Regions from separate parts of the Homo sapiens genome. Here region 2 is linked to region 1. A link means that fine-mapping ties the variant in region 1 to the expression of a gene that starts in the linked region. Tissue or cell type: esophagus muscle. Region 1 holds a variant in brackets; the other region holds the start of a gene. All regions are shown on one strand. Distances are from middle to middle.

What was found. PIP is the estimated chance that this variant, and not a neighbour inherited with it, causes the effect.
Region 2: LHCGR starts here. The variant in region 1 is fine-mapped to the expression of LHCGR in esophagus muscle (GTEx, PIP above 0.99). The same link has a PIP of 0.9 or more in esophagus mucosa, gastroesophageal junction and thyroid.

What each region holds. Positions count from the first base shown.
Region 1 is chr2:48,724,185-48,734,581 of GRCh38, forward strand. The region is part of intron 10 of STON1-GTF2A1L (STON1-GTF2A1L readthrough); the gene reads left to right. LHCGR (luteinizing hormone/choriogonadotropin receptor) reads right to left here. Exons shown (of 11, transcript NM_000233.4): 2 at 7,043-7,114; 3 at 4,969-5,043; 4 at 1,492-1,566. Among named protein-coding and RNA genes, the nearest start is that of LHCGR, 26 kb to the right of the region's middle. The variant T/C (reference allele first, on the strand shown) is at 3,582.
Region 2 is chr2:48,750,892-48,761,288 of GRCh38, forward strand. LHCGR (luteinizing hormone/choriogonadotropin receptor) reads right to left here and starts at 4,833. Exons shown (of 11, transcript NM_000233.4): 1 at 4,620-4,833. The coding sequence starts at 4,780. All of the region lies in intron 10 of STON1-GTF2A1L (STON1-GTF2A1L readthrough), which reads left to right. RefSeq lists an enhancer at 4,391-5,167.

The DNA of each region.
Region 1 (10,397 bases):
TGCAATTCAGGAAGTTCTTCTTTGCATCTCATTGAAATCACTAAACATTGTTTTGGTGTTTGGGACTATTCAAGGCTCTTCTTTTCTTCCCACCTTTTATTTAGCCTCTGAAGAGGAGAGAGGCTTAAGTGATAGGTGAAATTGAAGAGTATTTTATTACAAGAATGGGGCTCCCTCAGAGTCTAGGCATCTGGATTTCCCCACTGGAGTTTTAGATTCACCAGTCATGGGATCTGGACAACTAATATGAACTGTCTGTCACCCTCGTGACAATGAAACAAAGCCAGGTTTCTCTTCTGGCTCTCTCTGGTTCTCCTTCTTATCCAAAAGCCCAGGTCACACTGGATCTCTGCTCTGTCTACAGCTGGGGATAGCAGTGTGGGATTAGACTGCAACGTGTACTTGGGTTGGGTGAATATCACAGTTTTGGATGAAAATACTATTTAATAAAGACAATGATTCTTAGATAATAAGAGGCTGCAGTGGTCAAATTTGGTTCTGGGAGTTTCTTATGTTTTTTCAAAGTAGTTGATGCTACCGTATGCTTATGTGCCCTATAGACACCCTGGAGGTTTGGAAAAACAGAACACCTGAGTTTGGAATTGTTCAGTGTTAGAGTTAACAAAGGAGCTATGCCAGTTCCAGTAGCAGCTCTTATAGAAGGCCCCAGAGCAAGACTGATGACGTGAAGTACCAGAGAGATGTCCCTTCTCTCTGTTTTCCTTTTTTTGGGCAGTGATGGGAGGTGGGCTTTACATTCTCTGAGGAGTTTATGAAATTTAAAGAAAAAAGAGGGATGTCTGTTTTAGGGAGACGCAAATTTTTCTTTGTGAATAGGGATGACTTGATATGTGAAAAGATCCATAGTGATAAATTCATAGTTTTCAGGAATTTTGGTATTGCTGACAAGGCAATGATTGTGGCAGGCTACAGTGGTACTCAATTTCTAATGCTAACTGACAGACTTAGTTAGAATTAATGGGAAGTGGAAAATAATGATTTAGTTTATATGGCACAGTGTCTACCTTAAGGCAATACTTAAAAAGTTTTCATTTAATGAACAAATGAAAAAAATGAGATAAAGGAGATCAGAAACTCTTAACCCGTGATGAGAGTCAGACCAGAATTGCCACTCTCACTTTCACCTACTCTCTATTCACTTCAGAGATTCTGATTTACCCTTTTTAAAGTGTTATGACCTCCATCTCCCATACCCATTGTCAACCTTGAAAATCACTACAGAGGGGTGACGTTCTTCCCAGGTGTTTAGGACTGATAAAATGTTGGGAACCACTTACATGTATGTAAAAGCACCCAGCTCGGTGGCTGACAAGAAATGACAATTAAATTTAAATCAGAAGGCTGAAGAGGAACATGCAAATAGTGCCATGTATATGGTTAAACAAAATCTTTCCAACCTTTTCCTTGTTTTGATTTTCATCAGATGCCCATCTTCCCCTCCCCAATTGCTTAAAAAGGAAAATTTCTCACAAGTATTTTAATCGGGGAAGATTTATAAATGCTCCGGGCTCAATGTATCTCAGATTTTTGGTGTTCTGGATCAGTCTGTAAAGAGAGAGGGAAAAAAAAAGCTGCTGTTTAATAGATGTGTATTGTTTGAAATGTGTGAGATCATGGTCACCAGAAGTTGCTGGCTGAAAATGGCATCAGCAAAAGCAGGCGACCTTCATATGCTTGGGAGGACCCCTAGCGACTCTGGGGATGGAAATGGCTTGGTGAGAGCCAGTTCCCTATTTCCAGGAAGCACTGCTCTCAAGCTTCTAAAGAGGTGGGTATAAGGATCAGAGCAGGGAGTCTGTCTCTGCACCCTCCCACCCCTCTCCCCCACCACAGACAGCACCGACATCCAGGGCTCCTGGCCAAGCAGATTCTGCCCCACTGTGGACCCTGTACACTGAGGGTGATGAGAGACTCCTCTCAGGAGAGATGAGCAAATTACCTACTCTCCCTTGTAAGCAAACTCGTCCTCTTCATATTGGCCGGCAATCACATGAGCAGTTATACCGAGGGGCACCAGTCTGTGGAATGGCACAGGGCAAAAGCCAGAGGCTTGAATTTGGGGGATTTTATACTCATGCTGAAGATAATTTGCTGTGTCATGATGTCCAGCCTCCTAACTTCCCTGAGCTAGTGTCTCTTCTGTAAAATTTGTATAATAATATTACATAGTCTTCCTGCCTCACAGGTTAGTAGGTTTTAAGTAATAGAACAGGTAGAGATAATATGAGGCAGGGTTTGGCAAAGTATAAAAGTACAGCCATACACCACTGTGATGTTATTGCCCTCCCCGCCCAACTCCCTCATTCCCCTAATTACTGTGACTCTACAAAAAGTAGTCACCATTGCTAAGTCCTGTCTACTTTGTATTAAATAAAAGGCCAGTAAATGCCTTTGGGTTTCTTAATCCAGGTGACAGCCACCTGAGGAAATAATAATTACCTTGTTCTATAGAGAGAATGTAGTATATTGGTTAGGAGCATGGGCTCTGGAGTCAACTTGGTTTTTCATTCTGATTTTACTAATCGTATGACCTTAGATATATCACTTTAAGTTCTCTGTGTCTTGGTTTCCTTATAGTGTTGTTTTTGAGGAATAAATATATGTGTCTGGTTCACAGTAAGGCCTCAACCAGTGTTAACAATAGTTATAATAGTTGCTGAAATTAGGAAGTTGAATGATTTGTCTTCGGTCACACAGCTGAGAAGTAGCAGAACTTGGATGTGACCCAGTTTTTCTGACCCTCAGTTTAGTGCTTGTTCCACCACACTACAGTTACCCACCACTTGTGCCTGTTTCCATCTTCTCAGCCCTTTTGATTCTTCAGATGTGAGTGATATTTTGTTGTAATTATTTCTACAACAACTGAGTCAAACAATCATAGGCCATATAGAGCCTTATGTGGGTGGGATGGAAGGGACTTTTATCTCTAAAGGTCTTTTGGGCTGGGTGTGGTGGCGTGCATCTGTAGTCCCATCTACTTGGCAAGGAGGTGGGAGGATCACTTGAGCCCAGGAATTTGAGGTCGGTCTGGGCAACACAGTGAGACCCTGTATAAAAAAAAAAAGATTAAAAGAAATTTAATAAAAGAATTTTGGGGCCTGACCTTAGCCCAGTCATTCATTCATTTAACAAACATTTATTGGGCACCTACATGTGGCAAGCATCGTTCTATGTGCTGGGAATACAGCTGTGAACAAAGCAAAAAAAGCCTTCATGGAGCTAGCATGCTAGTCTTAGGACCTTCTTTGGGAATCCATAAACTTTCCCTGAGAGTGCTTTATGTTTCTTTCTGTTGATGAATGTTGCTTTGCATCACGGGAAGCTTTATTTATCATTAGCTGCCCTGGTGGTTCTCAATATAAGCTGTGTTTTAGCATTACCTGGGAAGTCTGTTAAAACTGCAGCTTTCCAGGTCTGGGATAGGACTGTCGTCTGTAATTGTAATGAGCCCAATGTGTGATTCTGCTTCTCAGCTAAGTCCAGACTATGTCTTTTGCACTTACTCATTATTTTGGATTTCTCTGTAATTGGTGAGTAGTCTCACTTCCCTGGCTACACTG[T/C]CATCTCATGGTGGACATTTATATTTTATCTCTTCTGTATTCCAACAGCATTTGGCCCTGTATTGGACACATGGTAGTTGCTCACGTACTTACCAATTAATTATTCTCTTCAGGTAATTATTCATTGGGTCATTTATAGGGGGACCCTGTGGTATAGTGGAAAATCTGGAGCTTTGAAGAAAGACAGTCTGGGATTGAACCCCAGTCCTGCCATGGTCTAAAGCAAGCTTGTCCAACCCACAGTCTGCATGCCACATGTGGCCCAGGATGGCTTTGAATGCGACCCAATAGAAGTTTGTAAACTTTCTTAAAACATTATGAGTTTTTTTTTTTTTTTAAACTCATCAGCTATTGTTAGTGTAAGTGTATTTTATGTGTGACCCAAGACAATTCTTTTTCCAGTGTGGCCTAGGGAAGCCAAAAGATTGGATACCCCTGGTCTGAAGTGTCACATCGGTCAAGTTTCTGTGCCTTTCCAAGCCTCCATTCCTTCCCCTGGACGAAAGGGATAATTACCCCCACTCTGCATGGTAGCTGTGAGGATTAAATGACACAACATAGAAGAAATGCCAAGCACAGAGCTCAAAAAATGTTTGATGCTAATACTTTTCCCCTTCCCTAACTTTTGAAACTCCAAAGTAGGTAAAGTTTGAGTGCTCTTCTGGAAACTCAGGTTTGCGCCTGAGTAAAAGCAGCAGTAGGGGGCCTGGTGTAGAAGTCACATGCATTGATTTCTAATTTCAGCTCTGGCACTAACTTGCGGTGTGATGTCAGGCAAATAGGTTAACCTCTTCAGGCCACAGATTCATCACTTGAAAACTGAATTGAACCAGTCTTTTCCTATCCTTTTTGTGATTTTTTGGGGAAATGATACTTTGGCAAGGGTTGTTTCTAAGAGTTAATTCCAAAACATCACAATAACAACAACAAAACCCAACAAACCCAACACACACATGCCTATCACACAGCTTTTACACTGTAGGTATTCAAGAAACATTCACTGAATGAGTGAATGTGCCAAAACAGCCCCCAATGAACCAATTTATGATCTCTAAGCTCTTTTCCAAATTTTCCCACTATCCCAAGTACTCCATACCCTCCATAGGCAAGAGCTACTTGGCAGGAGTTCATAATGTCAATTTTAATTTCTATCTTTGTGTTGTGATGTTTCAGAGTTTATACAGCTCCCAGGGAGAAGCAGTTGTCACCATAGCAACCTACAGGCCACTGCAGTGAGAAAAATTAGTGCCTGCCCAGACCTAGTAATTGCTGTAGTCTTTTCCTTTTGGATTCCTAGCAGTGGATGCTTGAATACAAATACCAAGTGGGCTCCAGCCAGTGAGGGTAATAGTGTACAGCAGTAAACTGTCTGTTAGCTGATGCTTACATTTCAGACAAATTGAGGAGGTTGTCAAAGGCATTAGCTTCTATCCTTTCCAGGGAATCAATCTGAGAGATTTCACTAGGGAAGAGAGGAGGGGGAAAAAGAGAAAGAAACATGAAAGAAATGACCGTGTCTGCATGATTATGAGCTATGTGTGTGACCCAACAACTGGGGACACCACTGTGTCCCCCTGAAAAGAACAAAGATGTGCAAGTTGTCCCCAAATCATACAGTGCTAACATCTCCCTTTAGGAGCACTGATGGGCACCTACAACCCAAGTGCAGTTGAAATGCAAGTTTTAGTAGCCCCTGTTTATGTGACAAGTTTTTCTCTTATTTATCTCTGACTCAGAGCCACAGATTGTTAGAATTGCATAGGCCCTTTGAGAAAATCTAGTCAGATTCCCTTGTTTTACAGCTCTGGAAATTAAGGCCCTGAGAGGAGAGGCAAATAGTATTTGTATTAAGGTTCAAGACTAGGATATGGATCTCTGGGTCCCAATTCTGTCACTCTAGTGAGGCTTTAATATGGATTGAATTGTTTCATAACTCTTAACCCTTAGTTTCCCAAAATCTCGTGCTGAGGCCGTTGCAAGGTGGTCAACTCCTGCACATGGTATCCATCCTGAATTACAATTACCTACTTCCTTGACTGTTTTTCTCACTTGTGAGCAAACTGAGGACAAAGAGTATATTCTATTCACTTCTGAATCCTTGGTGGCTTCATGTTGCTTGGCACAGCGTTAAGAGTACAAAATGAATGAATAAGTGAATGCAGTAGTGAATAATTGAATTTTTTGAAAACAATACAAAAATAAAGAAACCAGTTTTGTCATATATGATTCGCAAGCATGTAAGTCATGCCAATGTTACCCTAAAATCCCAACATACGCTACCATTTCCTGCCAGTTGAAAAAAAAGTCTCAAATTCACAAACTGTACATTTGCTTATTTCTAAGGTTAAGGCTCACTGAAGGCTTCAGACTGATGAGAGCATTAGCCCACAGAAAGGCAGAGCCTAAGGTAGCTAATGTCTTTTCTTAACAACACAGGAATGGATTATTCTTGGCTGATTCATCTTATTCCTACCTATTGGTTTGCTTATTTAACTGTAGCTCCTTTTCTCAGTAGGAGGTCTTAATGCATTAAAGGTTATCAAAACTCAACATTCCAACTTGAGAGCAGAAGAGTGTGGGTTAAGCTCAAGTAAACCGACAAGTCCGTAACCTGCAGGGAATTTCCTATAATATGCAGTAATTCTTGAGGAATTATTTTAAATATTCTAATTGCTTACTAATACCCTAAAGGGCAATAGAGGTTCCCAAAGGAGCTAAGATCAATGCTGTAGCATCTTCTTTAGAGATGCAAATCTGCTTCCAAAGTCCAGTGGATTGTTAAGATTGGAGATGCACTGTGAGAACTCAATGGCCATGAGGTCCTTTGACTCAGGCTAATATTAAGAAAGATGCTGGAATACTGGGCCCTTGAGAACATTCTCTCTCCAAGTATGGGAACTTTGGTCCTAGAAGCTGAAACCCAGAAACAAATGATCGAAGTTATGTCTGACAAACATGAGATCATACTGCATTATCCAGGTGCTTTACACTTTTGATAAATGCCTTTCATCAATATAGTTATAAATACTGTGTTTTTGTCATATACTTATATTTTAGATATAAAGATTATCTTCTGATGCACAATAAATTTCCAACACATTTTTTTTCCTATGTGGGTGTTATCTAAAAATGTGACACAAGGGAATAGCTGCTCTAGCAGAAGGAGAATTTTTATGATTGGAATCTATCTTTTTTTCTCCTTAAAAGGTATATCATCACTTATAAAATGCATTCAGTCATTTGAAGCAAGGTTAATTATCTGTATTTTAATGACTCTTAAAAATCATACCTTTTCTTCAAAGGTCTCTAGTTATTATTTGTATTACAAAGATAAAAATATGTGAGTATCCTAAACACAATTTCTTTCCTAGAAAAATTATCCCCTTTCAAATGTGTTTTCTCTTAGAAAAAATTCATTATTCCAATTACGAATGTCTTTTGATATGCAGTAACTTACTTACATTTTTATGACCTCATTAAGTCCTCTGAAAGCTTGAGATGGGATCACTTTGACAGGGAGGTAGGCAAGTGATCTAGAAAAGAAAAAAGGAAATCCAAGAGTTTAAGATTTATGATAGGGTGCCTTTTAAGTTCATGAATAAAATGGGTATGTGTATGTGTGTGAGAGACAGAGACTTCAGAGTTCCCAAGAACTGGATTCAGGCTGAGGATTCTAACTTAAATCAATGAAGAGATGTGCCATGACTTATTCTTGGTCTTTATCAAAGAGTGTATAATTTTGCGGTTAAGACTGTGAACGTTGAGATTAGGCATACCTGGACGCAAATCTTCGCTGTCCCACTACTTGGCTATGTGATTCTAAGCATGTTATTTAAGCCCTCCAGCTCAGTTTCTTTGTCTGTAAAATTGCAATAATAATTCCTACTTCACAGGGTCATTGTGATAATTAATCAGGATAATCCATGTAAAGAACAGGGCTTGGCACCAAGTATATAGTTAAATAGTTGTAGAGTGATCCTATAGACTTGATTGGGAAGATGGACAAAAACTATGTTGAGTAGAGTGGAGACATTAATGATGAAAATACAACTGGAAATCATGCAGGCAGGAAAACAGAAGATTCATTAAGAACATGCTCCCATCTTGATCTCTACTGTCTTTCCCAGGTAGCCTATTTCAATATTATTCCAAAGAGACAACTTTGATCCTATGGTTAACTCACATGGGCATCTCATGTCATTTGCGGGGAATGTCTATGAGATCATTTCCTTCAGGCATTCACTTATACCCACAGGAAAAATCTAAATATTCTTGAAATTGAAATAAAATCTATGCTGTACTTAAGATTTGAGAAAAGAGTGACACTCAGAAATGCAAAACCAGTATAGGATGATGTGTGAATGCTAAAGGAACTGGAGGTTAAGATAACTCAGGAGAAAGCAACTGCAAGGCAGGGACGAACATGCAGCCAACATTTATTGAGTATCTACAATGGTTTAATGTTTTGGCCCAAGGACTGGCAGAGAGGAAGGGAGTGGGCAAGGATATTTCAGGTGGGAAGTGAGTATGTGAGTATCAGGAATATGAGAACAAAGGTGAAAGATGCTGTCTTGTTTTTAACATGTCTATGCAGCAGAGACTGCTTTAAGCTTCTAGGAAAGAACACCTCCATGATGGGCAGATGAAAGTAAGATTTCTTACAGTCCCAGAAGGGACTTGCTACAGTTGTAAGCTACTATGTGAGTTATACACACCCATTTGTGACCTTCTTTTACTCACTCAACAATGGTGTGAGGTGGGAATTTCTCTTACATAGCAGAAGAAATTGGGTCACAAAGAGACTAAGTAACCTGAACAAGGTTACAACGAGGCAGAATGACTCCAGACATCCTTTCCCTGTGCAATACTGGCCAAAGCATGTCACTCTTAATCCCATGTCTTGGTGAGCAAGGTGGAGGGACAGACATTGCAACCTTGCTTCTCCTGAGAGGAAGCATGTCACATTCGCTCTATTTCTTCTGCAAAGCGGTTTACCAGCCGTTCCTCCCTAGGTGCTAATAGGGAGGAAATTTCATTTCAGAAAAATATTTTCACTCAATAATCTCTTAGAAATGATATAACCTAGAGAAAGTAATCCAACTTTGGTCTCTGATTCTATTCCCGAAGGCATTCCCAAGAAGGACATCGTTTAACACCTAAACTCATTTAACAAAGGATCCGAGAAGAACAGGGACAGTGTGGGAAGAAATCTTCTTGTGATGGCATATTTGCTTCCTATATTTCTTCTGGAATCATGTTCGCTTGGCTTCCTGATTAAAAACACAGTTTTATTGCTCTCTGCACTGCCAAACCAATAAATTTACAGAAGAGAAAGCTGTATTCCACTGTACCCCTTGCAGCATCAATAAAACTGACAGCCAAATTCTGATTCCAGAATCTTTATTGCTGGGGATAATGCAGTGCAGAACATATTTTGGAGAGTGTTTACATAAAAGCTTCAGCAGAACACTTCAGAGCTGTTTATTCATGCAAATGGAGCCCAGAAGCTGAAGTCTCTCAGCAGGCAGCCTCCTCCTCCAAATGGGAGCATGGTGTGACTCCCAGAGGAGCAGTTTGGTTCAGATTTGATCAGGGAGGTTGCCTGAGCTTTTGATTGATGTAGGGAGGAGGGATGAGGAGCAAAGGTCGGACAGAAGTGCAAGAAGCTGTAGATCATGCAATGGCAGTCTCCAGTGGCTACAGAAGCAGCCCTGGTGCAAGCTGAAATTTTGCAGCGTTGATGTTGATGCTGCAGAGCAGGAAAGGCAGCAGTGGGGAGAGTGAAACTAGAGCCTCCCCTATAAAAGAGACACCAAGTGAACAGCAGGTGACTTTGTGGATATGGCTGGGTCAAGAAAGAGTCCTGGGGGCCAGGGAATGGGGAGAGAGGTGGGGTTAGGCAGGTGCACTGTGCTTTTCACAACAGATGTGTTCCCATGAGGCAACACAGAGAATGTGGTCCTGTGAATCGAAAACCATTTTCCCTACAGACTTATATGTTTTTTTTTTCAGAAATGTCACATCTTCATTTCTGATTCGTCTTTGATGGGTAGCAGTTCCTAAGCATTCAAGTATCTGTCTCCAGAATTTATTAATAAAGTTTATGATTTGTTGATAACTGTTTGAATGTACTCCCTTTGAAGGTGTCCCACTCTCTATTGGATGCATCTATGATTCTTTCCATGATGCCAGAAACTTTTAGCAATGTGAACAATGATCTTAATAACCCTGCAATTCCACTCCTGTATACATTGAGAAAAATTCTCAAATTGATACTTAAAGGAATCTTGTACAAACGTTTTCTTCACAGCATTGTGGCATCAGGGGCTTGGAGGCAACCTGGGTGTCCATTACTAGGTGAGGGAGTATGTAAAATTTGGACCGTACACACCTAACTGAATAGGAGAGCCTGTAGAAGTGAGAGTCTAAAGGCACACAGAGTAGCATGGGTGGATCTTCAAATCATGGAACTGAGAGAAACAAGAAATTACGGAGATATAATATACTGTTTGCAGAATTAAAATATATGTAAACGAAACACTAGACATTAACCTCCTCCTGCACATGAACATACACTAGGATTGTTATCTAAGGTGAGTTGAGAGGAACAGAAGTGGGAGAAGGAGATAAAATAAATAACTAAAAACAGAGAGGGACTTTGAATGGACTAGTGATAATGTTACTTGAATGAAGAAATATGACCAACTTAACCCTCTGTACTAGAGAGACAAATGGAAAATAAAAAAGGTTTATTTTGATGTATTGGCAGCCTGCTTGCTTACCTTTCTTCCTCCTCCTTCCTCCTCTCTCCCTTCT
Region 2 (10,397 bases), 27 kb after region 1:
AGGGATGCTGGAAAACATTCTACAAGGTTCAAAACAGCTCCCATAACAAAGAATTATCTGGCCCCAATTGTCAATTGTCAATATTGCTAAGATTTAGAAACCTGCTCTGGCAGAAGAGGCACATGTTGAACAAATGGCTGCATTATGGTGAGATATGTACAAAAATATATGTAAGCCCAGGATATTGAAGTGAGTATGTGGATGGGGAAGATGGAGGTGGAGTGGGGGTGGGGCAGTGGGCATCAGGGAAGGCTTCATGGGGAAGTGACTCCTAATCATGGTTTTTACTTAATGCCTTTGCAACCAATCATCAAATAATGGCTTTAATTGAAAGCTTATTAGTCAATAACTACATATTGGGATTTTTTTTTCTTTTTGCACAACGTCTGAGTAATCAAAGCTCTCTAATAACTTTATGTCTTCTCTTAAGAAATATTTCCCCCCCAGCCTGGGAAGAATTTATTCAACCTTCTTCCTTGCTTCTCAGCAACGAATCTCTAGTTGATTTTAACCTGTGGTTCTTCCACCAGGACCCCTCTTTCCTTCTTCACAGTTCAGCTTCTTAACACTTGGCCCATGAAGCCTTCCCTTGGAGACTTCAGTTCATAGTGATTAATTCATTCTGTGAATTCCTTAGAGCCTTGTTGTCTTTCTCTCTACACCTATACCAGTCTCTTGGGGGTGTGTTTCCACTTACATTGTGGGCTTCTCAAAGACACTACGGCACTGAACACTGTTTTGGACCCTGATTTACACTGCAAGTGAGAGGAAGAGGAAGACACTCAAGAAAGGTGTCAGGAAAGAGTAATGCTGGATCGATATGAACATTGCATTAGGTTGGTGCAAAAGTAATCATGGTTTTTGCCATTGAAAGTAATGGCAATTACTTTTGTACCAAGCCAATATCTTGCCAAGGCCTCTGGATTATGTCTTCAACAAAATCTAAAAGTTTAATTTCTGTTCAGTAGGTACAACATGCAAAAAATAAATTGCCATAATTATTATTAGCATTTTCTTACTAACAGATTTTTCAAAAGCTGTTTCCATATCAAGCAGATCAACCTTTCTGTTGTCATAGAGACAAAGATCTTTATATAGCCATGGGCAAGGTGAGATTTTTTTCTCCTCTTTCCAGTTGCCTAGAACTAATAAGAAAGGAAAGGAAATTTTTTAAATCAGTTTTTTCTTTCATTTTTTCCCCAATTAAAGTGAGTGAAATGTGGGAGGTTATATTTTGTATCACATTTTAGATTTTAAATACCTATGTTTTTCATAAAATATGAAAGGGGAGGAAAAATTTGAACGATGCCATTTTCAAAATTTGTAAGCAGCAGGCTTGTCAGTGATAAGCAGCTATAATCCATGTACCTTGTTTTTTTTCTTCTTCTTAAACCAAATAGTGAACTTTGGATGGAGGTCTTAGAAGGTAAGGTTACTAGGACCCCAAATGACTAAAGCATAAATTAACATCTATTGAGGGACTAATGCTGAATCCTAAGGTGCTCTGCAGTACTTGCCTCCTCCAACCCTGAGAACTTGGAGTGCTCCCCTTCTCTCTGCAGAGGCAAAGTCTATGATAATGTAGTGCAAGACCACATCCTCTCCTCCTGGAAGACTTACCTCATAATTTAAGCTTTCTTTTTTTTTTTTTTTATGAACTGATAACTTGCCATCATAGCAGTTTTCTGTCTCATAATTACTGTTTATCATTTCATGCATTCATCATCAAGAAAAGAGGATTTCAGTATGAACCTGTCCACTTTTCCTGTCCTTTGTCTTAATATTGAGTTATTCCTTTACCCATAGGTCTTCTTACCTCAGGACTCAAAACTTCTTATTCTTTCTAAGGTTAATCTTTCCCCCATGTTGTTAGACTGATGCTCTCCTCCTACCCCCATTGAGATCTGACAATTAACATTCCTCCCTCATTCCCTGTATCTTCAGTCTGTCCTCCATGGATTCCTTCCTGCAGTCCTCTTTGAGGAAAAAAAAAACTTCCCTCAATTCTGCTTATTTTCCGTCTGCCTCTGGGTTTAGGATTTTGATTTTATGCCTTTTTGCAATAAATAGGTGTTATGCCGGATTTTGGCGGGGGGGGGGGGGGGTGGGGAAGGGAAGTGTATGGCACAAGGACTTTTAAAATATACTTTTTCCTCTCTAAGATGATACCTCCCTGGAGAGCTGTGCCTTGGTTCTCAAACTTTAGTATGCATCAGAATCACCTGAGGAGCTTGTTAATCTGTAGCCTGCTGGACCCCACCCCTGGAGTTTCTGATTCAGTAGGTTGGGGCTGAGGCCTGAGAATATGCAGTCTAACATTTCCCAGGTGATGTTCATACTGCTGAGCTAAGACCATACTTTGAGAAATATTGCCTTGAAGTAACAACCCTCCCTTTGCTTAACATGCACCTCTCTTGTCATATGGATGTTGGTGTCACTATGTTGTGCCAAAAGTTACCCTGTTTTGGCCTGCATAGGCTCAACCTCCACAGAGTGACAAGGGCATCTCTTGAAAGATGAGGGCATCTCTCAACCATCTGGTGCTCAGGAAATGAAACCTTGTGAGGGTCACCACGCTTGGCTAAGGAGGCTAAATGACTGGCAGAGGATGTTCCTGGTGGTGGATGCTCAGGGTCTCTACCCCCAAACCTAGTCAGCCCTATCAGATATTTTTGAGGGGTTCTAGGATTCTTGAAACCCTGCTGAAAGGCAGCAGGAGAAAGTGGGATTTTTAAAAAAAATTTACTTCAGCCTTTTCCAGGGAAGGGGGTCCCCTCCTGAGAACAGCACGTGGCAGCAGGAGCCCTTGAGAGATCTTACTGAAAAGCTGAATTGAAAAGGAACTGGGACTTGGCCCACCCATTCATGCCCCCAGTGGGAGTTCTTTGCTCAGTACTAATTTTGGAGAAACTGAGTGTGTGTGTGTGTGTGTGTGTGTTTTATTAAGAAAGCAGTAGTTTTTCTTACAAAGATGAGCAAATTTAAAAAGATAATTAATAGATAAAATCCTGAATTGCTATTCAATAGCTGTGAGACCTTGAGCAAGTTATTCCTTCTCCTTGGATCTCAGTTTCTTCTAATCTGTATGATAAGTAGCAGGCAAGTGAGAAAGTCTGTTAGTAGTACAGTCATTCTTAAGAGCAACATGGCATGCTTGTCAGGGACGGACCAGGGCTGGAACTTGGAAGGCCTGTTGCATGGATTTGTGGATTGATTGAAACAAATTCTATCAGCATGGTCCATTCCTTCAGGGAATGGACCTGACAAGATAATTAATGGAAACTAATTAATATAAACCCCTCAACCCTTTAACTGTATCTCTCAACCACAATTATTCCCAGAAGGCCTTTAACTTTTCCACATGAAGAAGCCTGGCCTGGCAGGGAGGGTGAGTCTCCTCTATGAAACAGCCCGTGACAGACTGTTGGGGGCTCAAAGGAAATGGCAGAGGGGGTGGTCTCCTTCCTTCCCCAGCACAGAATTCCATCATCTCTAATTGTTAGGACATGATCAAGACCTCTACCAGCCTTTTAGATACTCTTGTCTTTTGTCTTTTTTTCCCTTTCTTTTCTTTCCTTTTCTCTTTTCACAGCTGTATTGAGATGTAAATCCTACACTATAGAATTTAAAGTGGACAATGCAATTGTTTTTAATATGTTCACACGCAACTGTCTCTACAATCTAATTTTACAAAAATTTCACCACCCCCCCGCCCCAAGCCCATACCCACTGATTAGTAGTCACCTACTGTCCCTCCCATCCGCTTCCCCAGCCCTGGTAACTACTAATCTACTTTCAGTTTATCTGGACATTTCATGTAAATAGTATTATAAAATATGTGGTACTTTTTTTTCTAAATAGGAGAAAGGAGACCTGATGACACCCTGATAGTCTAGTACTAAAGGCTCCCCTTCTCCTCTTTACCCCATTACTCCAGAAACAACGCCCTCCCCCAGGTTGCTGATGTATACAATCCCTCAATCAGGCCTGTGAGTGTGGAGGTGGTGCGCGGGTGCCAGCGGCAGGGCACAGGGCCTTTGGTCCATTAGACCATGAGACTGAAGTTCAAGCACATCTGGGCACGGTGGAGCAGCGGCTTGTGTGCTCACTAAGATGCCCGTGTGACTGCCAGCAGTCAGTTGACAGATTAGGTCACCCTTGGCCATAGGGCCTGAGCACTCCATTCCTAGAGGACCACAGGGTGCCAGAGCTCACATTCACCTTCCCTGACGTGGCTGGCCCAAGGCTCAAAGGCCTGTAAGACTTCTCTGGCAGAGACCCCTGCCAGAGGAGTTGAGGAGCGTCACACCCATATTCCCTTCAAGCAGCGGCAGAGAGCAGGCCTTCCCCTGAGGTTCCTGAATAGTTCTACTCCCCCGGCCACAGCCCCAACCAGGGGTAAAGAATGGGGCTGGGGCTCTCAGAGGCATGGGGTGGTAAAAACAACCACCAAGTTTTGGGTTCTCATCACCCTAAAACGTGGGGGAAATTTGATAGGGCAAAGCGTTTTTCTCCAAGCTTCCAGGGAAAGGGGGCCAAAGGAGTAGGGAGGGAAGGTGGCATAGAGCGATGGAGGGTCCTGCATCAAGGGCGCCGCGACGGGAGCGCTGTGTACTCACAGTCGAGTGAGACCGGCCGTGGGGCCGGGGCAGCGCAGGGCGCCGTCGGGCACGCAGTTGCAGGGCTCAGGGCAGAGCGCCTCGCGCAGCGCTCGTGGCAGCGGCGGCTGCAGCAGCAGCAGCAGCTTCAGCAGCTGCAGCGCCGAGAACCGCTGCTTCATGGCCGGCGAACTGGGCTTCTGCGGCTTGCCAGTGTCTTGGACGGCCTCTGAGTGCGGCCCGCACCCCTCTCCCCGCCCCTTGGCTGCCCTTCCACACACCCTTCCCTGCCGGCCCGCCCCTGCCCTCCCCCTCTTACCGCGCACCCCGCTGAGTCTGCTCTGCCTTGACCTGCGACAGTGCCCAGTGACCCAATAACCTCCTTCCTGCTACTTTCCCCTGTCTTGTCCCCTACCATCTGCAAATGGCCCTAGCTATAGGAGGTAAAGAGATTTAATGGCAAATGTTTTGGATTAGAGGTGGGGAGTTCTGAATTGAGTGAGTTGTGACGCTTCCCGGAACCCCTTTTATTTCATTTGTGAAAGGGTCCGATGGATACTCGCTATACCCACATCAGAAGGCGTAAGAGTGCCTGGCTCAGACATTTTTCCTCTCTTTTATCCTCAACCCCTAATCCTTTCCCCTTCTCTTTCACCAAATCCCTCCACTCTACAAGTAATCTTTGCCCATCCTCCCAACTACCCCAGTAATTTCTCTTGGTGGTAAATGCTTTCTTATTTATGGTATAGCTATTTGGCTTGGTCCTGTATCTCTTCTATAGATTGGGAGGTCCTTGAGAGCAAAATCCAATTCAGATTTATTTTTGTATTCCTTCTGGCTTCTACATGGTAAGTCCTCAGTAAAGATTTGTTGAATGAATGAATGAAACTGCCTAATACTGGTAGCAGCTGCCCCATAGAAGGCCCAGGATAGGCTAGACCTTGTAACAGGTGCTCTGCCTCACATCATGTTTAAGCTCCACATTGAACTAGCAGGGTGTTTGCGATGAGAAAAATGTCCCAAGAGGTATGTGGCTTCCCTGAAGTCACACGGTTTTAAAGTAGTGAAACCTGGAACTCATGTCTATCACCTACCACCTCTCACCAATGCAAAAAGCTGCTATGATCTACATACCAAAGAACTTAGGAGACAAAATTTTACGGTAATCATGGGGATCCATAATATCCCCTCTTTGATTTGATCATTTCTTCCTTCCAAGGATTCTGTTTGGATTCTGGAAATCCTAGCAGTTTTGCTGGAAGAGGTGGACTTTGAAAGCTGGGAAGGCATTTAAGGCTTTGAAGAGAGGAAATATAAGAATAGATTTCTTTCACTCTGAAGCCAGTTCTCAAGGATGGGCTCCTTCATTCACCATTCTACAGTCTGTTGCTCAAGGAGGGTAGATTATTATTATTTTAAAAACTTGTTTGGCTTTGGCCACATTGTGCTAGATGGCACAAAAACAATGCTCATGTCTATAATATTGTCTTCTCTGGATCCTCTCTTCAACTGCTTATAGATGACTCCTCACCCTTTAATACCTCTGCATGGGCTGTCCCCACTATTTTCTCTTCTTTTTCCATTATTCCATTAGATAAACTCCCAGTTGTCCTTCAAGACTCAGCCCAATGTCATTTCCACTTTGATTCTTCTCTGAGTCATCCTAGTTGAGTAGTTGTGGCCATAACACCTGGTTCTACAGCAGGTAATCTAACACACTGTAATTGTGGGTTTAATTTTGCTTTCCCCTCTCTATTCATCTCAATATCAACAGAGCATGTCATAGCTTCTAGCTCCTAGTAGGTGTTCCATATGTGTCTGTTGAATAATAGAGTGAATAAGTGAGGCCCAGATTTGTAGTAGATGCTCAGTAAACTATCTGAGAAGAGCTTGATACCCTCACTTGCTTTATTCTCAACCACGCTGGATCTATCTGGATATGTAAAAAGTAATTATACATGACGACTTTGGGTGTCATGTTCTCTGTTCTCTTTTAGTTTTGTCAGATTTTGGTAGGGAAGTTGGGGTAGGCACTGGGATTTTTAAAAGTTTTCACCATGTATCTTGAATGGAAGGAGAGAAAGAATGAATAACTCAAGGTGCCTGAATGGCTTTTCTTTCAAGTCTCATGTTTTATGTGACTTTTTTCTTTTTTTAACCCTGTAGTGTACCTGTTATATATAAAAAAAGTTTGCTCCCACCCACCCCTGAATCTTTGAAAACAATGGATATTCCAGAAGAATCATTTAATTCTGTACTCCAGTAGGAGGACTAGGCAATCAGAACACTAGGATTTTCCTTCTGTTTCTGCTGTCAATCATGAGATTTGCCCTTCAGTCTCTTCATCTGTAAGAAGAAGGGTTGAAGTTCACTATCCCTAAGGCTCTTCTGGCTCTAAAGATGCAAGGACTTTCTAAGCAGCTCCTACAGAATTGCTAGTGGGAGGAATTGGATTGTATATATTGACTTCTTATAACTTGTCTTGGATTGGAAATAAAATCCTGTTTATGAGGAGTTGAGGTTGTTCGTTTGGAAGAAAGCTAACAACTGTAATGAGTTTTCATAAAATTTTACTATCTAGATTAATTTCAGTTGGATCTTAATTATCACATCAGTTCTTGCAATGTAACTATTATAATAAAATCATATTGATTCATTTGTTATAATCACAAAAGTTTGTTACAATGGAATTTACCTATCTTATTCATTAATACTCATTATGAGTGAGTATTTTTAAATCCAAAGGACTTTGTTTCATTAACTATGCTTATAGCTACTTTGTCAGAGAACTTCAAACCAACATGACCCACAAAGATTGCTGATTACATTTTAATGACAAAATAAAGTTCACAGAATTCACAAATATTTTATCCTACTTTAGAGATAGAAAAACATACTGACACCGTAACTCAGAAATTGCAATTAAAACTCTCCAAAGTTTTAGAATGGAGCTTCTCATATTTTAGGGTGCAGAAATACCATTTGCAAAGCTTTAAATACGAAGATTCCTAGAACTTTCCCTATGAGATTCTGATTCCATAGATATAGAGTGGGGTCCAATAATCTGCATTTTAACAAGCTTTCTCGTGTAATTTTGATGCATGTAGTCCTAGAGCACAATTTGAGGAATACAAAAATGGTAATCCTAGAATTAAATTTGCCTGAAGAAAACAAAGCTCAAGAATCTTTATTAAGGACTTTGAGTGAAGCCTAATAATTTTGATGCATCTTAAAAGAAACCTTGATATGTATAAGCATAGAAATAGTATATTCTGTATACCTGTGTTTAAATGTCTAAAATTATTTAATTGGTTATATTGCTGAAATTTATTTATTTATTTATGGAATGAGCCATGTTGCAAAATCATGGAATCTATTTTCTTTATGCCACCCTAGGTCAAAACTCAATAGCATCTGAAGTTACATTAACACATTGGAGTTGAAAGACATTAGCAAAGTAATTTTTAAAAAAATTTTTACTTTAAGTTCTGGGATACATGTGCAGAACGTGCAGGTTTGTTACATGGACATACCTGGGCCATGGTGGTTTGCTGCACCTATCAACCCGCCATCTAGGTTTTAAACCCCGCATGCATTAGGTATTTGTCCTAATGCTCTCCCTCCCCTTGCCCCCCATCCCCCAACAGGCCCCAGTGTGTGATGTTCCCCTCCCTGTGTCCATGTGTTTTCATTGTTCAACTCCCACTTATGAGTGAGAACATGTGGTGTTTGGTTTTCTGTTCCTGTGTTAGCTTGCTGAGAATGATGGCTTCCAGCTTCATCCATGTCCCTGCAAAGGACATAAACTCTTTTTTATGGCTGCATAGTATTCCATGGTGTATATGAGCCACATTTTCTTTATCCAGTCTATCATTGATGGGCATTTGGGTTGGTTCCAAGTCTTTGCTCTTGTAAATAGTGCTGCAATAAACATACATGTGCATGTGTCTTTATAGTAGAACGATTCATAATCCTTTGGGTATTCCCAGTAATGGGATTAGCAAAGTAATTTTTAAAACCTTAAGTAGAATAGGCAAGGTTTTTTGATTATTGAACACATACCCTGTTAGTATAATAACTGGTATTTCTTCTCACTTAAAAGCAGTGGTTTTACCTTTCCCTTGGAAGAAAAGGTGAATGTAGGCAGAGGAAGAAAAAATTGCTTAAGAAGAGAAAAATACAGTTACATCTCTGAGCTGTTCACCTTTTTACCTGGGGTAAAAAAACTAAACAAAACAAAATAAGGAGAATAAAAAAGACAGTCCATGAAAGTTACACTCCAAAATTTCATGCAAATTCTTTATTGCTTGTTTAGAATTTTCATCTCCATTTCACTGTCTACATAATGTAAAATCAGAGCTGCGATCATCTGTGCCACCTCCCACACAGCCCTGGGGTTCTTGTGGGCCTCAGCAGGAGTTTGAAGCTGCAGGATGATAGGAAGCTGGGCTGGTAATTGGAATGTGATGATTGGTCTGGGGCATGAGAATCCTACTCTAAGGCTGATGGAGAGAGAGAGTTGGAGAAGGGGCCTTGCCTTTTTGGTCATGTTGCTGGAAGGATGTGAATGAATTAGGGGCTGCTGTCCTTCTTGTCTCATGGAAAAAGCCTGTTTGTGCTGGCAACAACTAGAGGAAAGTAGAGATGAGAAATAGATGGGGGCAAGCAGTCTTGTTAATGTCCTTTGACTTCATGGAACTGGTCATGCCTGAGGCCAGCTCTACCCTTGGACTTCCTAAGTAATGAGCTAACACACTCCCCTCCTGCTTAGTCTAGTTGGAGTTGAGTCTCTCTCACTTGCAACCAAAATTCTTCATCTCTACTATCAGCCTTGCTGTGAACTTTATTTAACCTGCCAACTTCCCTCATCCCTTCCCAGTTAGGAGAGAAATAGGGCTTTTCTATTCTTATCTCTGTCACAGGACTCATTATAGTCATAGTGAATTTTTCTCCTTTGCATTGACAGCCTTTATCATCGTACTTCTAGGAATAAACAAGTCAAATGAGTGAATGAACAAATGAATGAGTGCACAAAGAAGTAGTGTAGTAGAATCACGTTATTCCTCTTTGTAGAGAAACTGCATTTTGTTACATAATTTACCTAACATCATTTTTCTTTTAGGGAAGGCCTCTTACTGAAAACTTGGTTTAGCAATTAAACTTCAAGCTAAAATATTAGACAGAGGCAACACAAGGAAAGTGAGAAAGTTTTCTGAAATGATGATATAAATCAACAAAGAAACAAGATTTGATTGTTTAAAATCAGTGTCGAATTAATTAAAGTGTGTGCTACAGCAGCTTTCCCCAACCTTTTTGGCACCAGGGACTGGTTTTGTGGAAGACAGTTTTTCCACGGATGGTGTGGGTGGCTGGTTTCATGTTGAAATTCTTTCATCTCAGATCATCAGGCATTATGTTCTCATAAGGAGCATGCAACTTAGATCCCTTGCATGTGCAGTTCATGATGGGTTCATGCTCCTATGAGAATCTAATGCCGCCGCTGATCTGACAGGAGGTAGAGCTCAGGCAGTAATGCTTGTTTGGCCATTGCTCACCTCCTGCTGTGCAGCCTGATTCCTAACAGGCCAGGCCCTGGGGGTTAGGGAATCCTTGTACCACAGGATACTGTTTTTCTGCCAGGCTAATTAGCAGTATTTAGGGGAAAGGGACCAAAACTCAAGAAATTTGAGGAAAATTGGGTTAAAAAAGTTAAACAAGGTTCTTTACTAAAGAGTTTTCCAGAACATTTTTTATTTTCATTTTTACTTTAGAGTTGGGGTCTCACTCTGTCACCCAGGC